Regions from separate parts of the Homo sapiens genome. Here region 1 is linked to region 2. The links come from fine-mapping of genetic effects on gene expression. A gene starts in region 2. The other region holds a variant in brackets. All regions are shown on one strand. Distances are from middle to middle.

Evidence for each region. PIP is the estimated chance that this variant, and not a neighbour inherited with it, causes the effect.
Region 1: its variant is fine-mapped to the expression of RFC4 in kidney cortex (GTEx, PIP 0.92).

Annotation. Positions count from the first base shown.
Region 1 is chr3:186,236,759-186,239,675 of GRCh38, forward strand. All of the region lies in intron 20 of DGKG (diacylglycerol kinase gamma), which reads right to left. Among named protein-coding and RNA genes, the nearest start is that of DGKG, 120 kb to the right of the region's middle. The variant A/G (reference allele first, on the strand shown) is at 1,351.
Region 2 is chr3:186,805,024-186,807,940 of GRCh38, forward strand. RFC4 (replication factor C subunit 4) reads right to left here and starts at 1,459. Exons shown (of 11, transcript NM_002916.5): 1 at 1,267-1,459. RefSeq lists enhancers at 1,015-1,626, 1,627-2,238.

The sequences.
Region 1 (2,917 bases), 570 kb before region 2:
TAGTAGGAATGAAGCACTGCTTCGGTCCCTCTGAAGGGCCTAACAGGAAATAACTTGCTTCAGCCTCAACTGCTGAGAGACGCGGTCAAGTGGATACACTCAACAGGTTTAGAATAACACATTCCGCAAGTACTCTGAGTTTCTAACCAACAATGAAAACATTCCACAGTTAGACTTCTCTTTCTAGACACTCACTGACAGTGACATTAGAATTAGGTGGCTTTTATGTATAGATTTCATATGCAAAACCCTTCATGGAGACTTAATCTGGAAACTTCATGGTGGGCTGGTTTTTGGCTATCTGGAAGACTTTGACGGGATTCTTGGCTCCTCTGCTAGTACTGATTGCTGCCTGTTTGTGGGACTGAGAGTCCCTCTCCTTCTCCCTAAGTTGAAACCCTCTTTCCTCCATTCTTTTGACTTTATTGCAAACACCCTACTCTGTGACTACTGGCAAAAGTGTCTTCTTTTTATTAATTCCTCTGTCCTTGCCAGGGCCACCTCATAGGTGTGAGATGTGGACTCCAGGGCCCCACACTTAAGAGGGCTCAGTGCTTAGTTTAATGCTTTGCTGTCCCATTTTTGAGGAAGGGGCCTCACATTTTTAATTTTGCACTGGGTCACACAGATCATACAGCCAGTCCTGCTCCTTGCTGTGGACGTGGAAACAGGGAGAATGCTCACACCATACAAGGTATGACTGGATGGTGTACCTGTTCTCCTCCCCTTTGGAACTCAGCAGGCATTTTCCCACAGAGACAATCCATAAAGGCAGATGATGCCAATGACAGCTCCATCCTCCTTAGCCTCAGTTCCTTCATTTCTAAAATGGGGACAGTAGCACTTACCCTTGCATGTTATTGTGAGCAATGAGTGGGATGATGTATAAAGTACTTATCAGAGTGTCTGGTATACATCAGTGCTTGCTCAATGAAATCTATGTGAGACAGCAGTTGCGGCAAACAGAGCTTGGACTCTGGAGTGAAGAGCTAGGTCAGAAATTAAATTAGCCCCACTGCCTAAAAAATACATGACTTTTGTTAGTTGACTTGGTTTCTTCCAGTGTCAGTTCCTTTATCTGTAAATGGGAATGCTAATATTTATCTTGAAAGGTTGTTTTGTGATTTAAATAATTTAATGTATTTAAAGACCCTAGTTCACCACTTGGCATCTAGGAGGAGCTAAAAAAATGAAAACAGTTCTTAGTCAGGTTCCCCTTTAACACTATTGCTACACCTAAAACAACCAATTTGGCCAGGAGTGGTGGCTCACACCTGTAATCCCAGCACTTTCGGAGGCCATGGCAGGCAAATCACTTGAGGTCAGGAGTTCAAGACCAGGCTTGCTGAC[A/G]TGGTGAAACCCCATCTCTACTAAAAATAGGAAGAAAAGTTAGCCAGGCGTGGTGGTGTGTGCCTTTAATCCCACCTACTCAGGAGGCTGTGTAGGAAAATCACCTGAACCTGAGAGGCAAAGGTTGCAGTGAGCCAAGATCACACCACTGCACTCCAGGCCAGGTGACAGAATGACTCTTTCTAAAAAAAAAAAAAAAAAAAAAAAGACCAAAAACATCCCCCAAAAAGAAAACAATCCATTTGCAAATGATGTTTGGGATATGACCATTAATAAGTTCTTACATATTATACGACTTCCTGTATACTATATCACCTATGAAATGTAACCACCTTGTATGTTAAAATAATTTTGTAAAGAATACTTGAGCACTATTTTTCCTTTTCTTTTGCTAGACGACGATTTCCTTGAAGGCAGGGGCCACATCTTATGTGCCCTTTATTCCAGATCACTTTCAAACACTTTAGAATCTCAGTTGAATCAAATTTCTCTTTTGTTCTTTATGCCAACAGTGAGACGATAATCTCCCTAACATTCCTCAATTAGCAATTAATGATTAGCCTATTGATAACTAGGAGGTAGACAGGGCCAAAAATAACCCCATCTCTGCCGTTAAAGGCCTTTTCTTTTTTGCCCATCATACATGGCTCGTATTCCTGCCTCCTCGGTTCTGGTTCTTGCTCCATTAATGAAACTATTCCATCAGAGAACATAACTTGGTTTTCTGGAACCCACTATCTTCCCTGGCAACAACCCATCTAGAGAGGCCATGGAGGAAGAATTTCCTGAAACCCCAACATTTGAGTCATAATTTGATGCCTCTTAGGATTCAAAGAGGCCTCAGACCTGTGACTTTTAAACATTTTGGGAGTATAGGTTCCTTTAAGAATCTTCTGATAGTTATGGACATTCTCTGCAGAAAAATACATTCAGTACCTTAGTACAATTTCAAGGTGTTCTCAAAACCCCTGAAGCCCTTGGATCCCAGGTTAAGAATTCTTGTTAGAATAGCCAAGAAAAGGGAATCAGCAACGTGAATGATTCCGGTTTCCTGGTAAGTGTTCCGGACCTGACTAGTCACTCTCCCTTGCTGAAAACAAAACAAAACAGAACAAAACACAGCAATGACAACTCCCAAGATTTAACCTCAAGATTATCCCTGAGAGTCCAAACCTGGGCAGTAATGGTAAAGGCTTCCGGCCAAGCAGTAACTACTCTTTGGAGAACCTCAGTTCAGCTGAGTAAAATAGGCCTTGTTTGATAATGCCGTTTACATTTCCAAATCCTGGGTATCAAGCTTTCTTCCTATGCCTTGCGGCCTTTCCTAAGTTTAGCCGCTGGTGTAATGGGGTAACCATGGCAACAACCACCTGCCTATTTAAAACCATCTCCAATGCTAAATAAGGAAGCCTGAAGAAAATGGCTGCTTGCCTGCCTCTCAGTGGACAAATTGGGCACTCCTGGGTATTTTAGACATGGGCGAATAGGCAGGGTAGAAGCAGTATGTATGCAAAGTTCTTCATAGGAAGCGTTCGGTGACCTTGTGAAATAGGTGCTACCTCAGCCC
Region 2 (2,917 bases):
AATGAGTTCCAAATGCATTGATAAATATGATGTTGCTAATGACCAAACCACATGGGCCTCCATGGTTTCTTTCACAGTCATGGGCCTAGCTCTAGCTCAGACCCTGAAATGGACTCTTCGGCAATTAAAGGTGCTCTGCTTGCACCACAAATGAGAACCTTCACTCCTTTCCTTGGGTCAGAACTCAAAGACCTTTTTTTGTTGTTGTTGTTTTTGAGACAGGGTCTCACTCTTTTGCCTAGGATGGAGTGCAGTGGCGGAATCATGGTTCACTGCAGCCTTGACATCCCAGGCTCCTGTCATCTTCCCACTTCAGCCTCCCCAGTAGCTAGGACTACAGGTGCGTGCCACCACCCCCGGCTAATTTTTTAAATTTTTGGTAGAGACAGGGTTTCACCATGTTGCCTAGGCTGGTCTGGAACTCCTGGGCTCAAGTAATCCTCCTGCCCCGGCCTCCCAAAGTGCTGGGATTACAGGTGTGAGCCATCTCGCCTGGCCAGGGACCTATTTTCATGGCAGAGTCAATGCTTACCTACCTTCAGAGACTTTCTGTGGGGAAGGGAAGGTGGGGGACTCTGTTGTTAAAATAGAAACAGCTGTTTTTCTCATAACACACTCACTTGAAGAAATCAAAACAATGCATAAAAGCATGAGAGATTTAAAAAAGTAATACAAAATCCCACCCAGAAGGTAACTATTTCTAACATGCAGGTAAACATTCTTCCAGGCTGTTTTCAGGGATAAAAAGCATCATTAGCTCGCCTGAAAAGTCCCCGGTTAATTCTATTTTTTTCACTGCTACATGCCCTGGTGCCTAGAACAGTGCCTGGTACATGGTAGATGCTCCGTAATATTTGGTGAATGAATTACCATCTATGATACCCGGTTTCCTTTTCTGTTAAAGGAGCTAAGGCCTATTCCACAGGACAACTGAGTTAAATAAAAGAATGTATGCAAATACATAGTTCCTTGCTTGGCATATGGGGATATGCTCAATAAAATAAATTTTTAATATCTGTTAGCAGCCAAGGTTTTTATAACGTTACTGGATTAGTCCATCCCTGCCTCGGGCTGTTAAACATTAATACAGCCCAAAGCCGGGGCCTGCAAGATGCTGTCCGGAACCACCATTTCACCAAAGGGCGCGGCCAGGGCATGAAAGGGCCACTAGGCTGGGGCCCCGAAGGAGGTGGAAGACCTCACAAGGGGCATCAAGGGCAGGAGTGGGGAAGGCGAAGCGGGCTTGCAGTTCCTCCAGCAGGTTACCAGTTAGCCTGGCTTCTCGTGCAGGTCACCGCCGCCGGCTCGTTCCTCAGGTTTCCGCGATACAAAAAGGACGAGATGGTCTCGAAGTCTTAGCTCCGTCACCTAATCTGAGAATAACGGGCCCAGGAGACTTACGATCACTGATGTCCCCACAGTCGCCTCAGTTCCCGCCACGGAACGGCGGGCGAAAAGCAGGGCGGGAATACGCCGGTAGGAATACGCGGGCACGTAACGCGTCACTTCCGGTGCTGGGGCGCGCTGCTTGCGGAGGGAGTTTGCCCGTATACGGTTTTATTTAGGCAGGTGATGAGCCAGCCGGACTTTCAGGCAGAACTGGACTGGAACAGGCATGGCCTAGGAGGTGTCCCTGTCCCGGTGCATTGCTCCCACTTCAGACGTGAGCGCGACCCTCCCGGAAGGAGTAGAGGTCGCGCGGGCACGGCGCTGGGGCTGCTTACCTGGCAGGCTCAGCAATGAGGGCGGGGCGGCGGCGCGCGGGCCTCTGGAACCCTGCCGGTCCACCGAAGGTCCCGAGCCCGCTATCTTCGTAGGTGCGGGCCTCCGGAGGTGCAGGTCCCTGTCCTCCTTGTCCTGCTTCGTCGCAGAGCAGAACGCGTGTGCTTTAAGGGCAGAGACATCTGAAGATGCTTTGCCTTGCCCTCTTGAGGACACGTGGCTTTTACTTCTAATAGTGTCTGCGTGTTGTGGAGAGAGAAGACCATGCAGCTGTGGACATCTATTATAATTCCTGAGCCCCACTTAGAAATCTGGAAGTGAAGGCGTTCAATAAAAGTTAAAGGACTGATAATCATGTTTAGCCCCACCAAGCTTCATGCACAGTGGGCTAGGCTGGTGCCTGAGCCCACTGCTTTTATCTCTTCCAAGTACTTGGTTTAGCTCTGAAATGCTCCTTAATCCTATTGAAACCTGACCCTTCTCAAAGGCCACCTTCTCTACTGGTCTTTACTAATTACTAACCCATAAGGTTGTTCCGGGTCTTCTTCAAATGACTGTTTTGTTTGGCACAAACTCAGCATGATATCCATTGTTAACTTTGTACGTTTTTTTCATTTATCTTGCAACAAATGCTTACAGAATGTCCACGCACTGTGTTAGATGCCTGCAGATACAGCAGGGAAAACGCTCGAGATGCCCTCAAGTAGCTTTACAGACTAGGAGAGTGACAGACAATGTGATGTGTGGTTATGCAGAGGAAGTAGGGGGCTGTGAGAACTTACATCCCAGGCCTAACCCAATCAAGGGTTTAACCAAAGTAAGGATGCTTTATGCTACTTTGTAATTTCCACAGAGTCTGATACAATCTCTGGACAGTATAAAAAACACACAGGTTATCTATCTGGTCACCGGTTTACATTACCATAACTTATCAAACTGTATACTTAATGCTTGTATATTTTATTGTATGTAAATTATACCACAATACAGTTGATAAAACAAGATCTATGAAAATAGATGGTATCCATTTGCTACCTGAAGGAACAGCACAACCACAGAGAGGGGGATGTTATGATCTCATTTAACAGACAAGTTGGGCTGGGCACGGTGGCTCATGCCTGTAATCACAGCACTTTGGGAGGCCGAGGTGGGCGGATCACCTGAGGTCGGGAGTTCAAGACCAGCCTGGCCAACA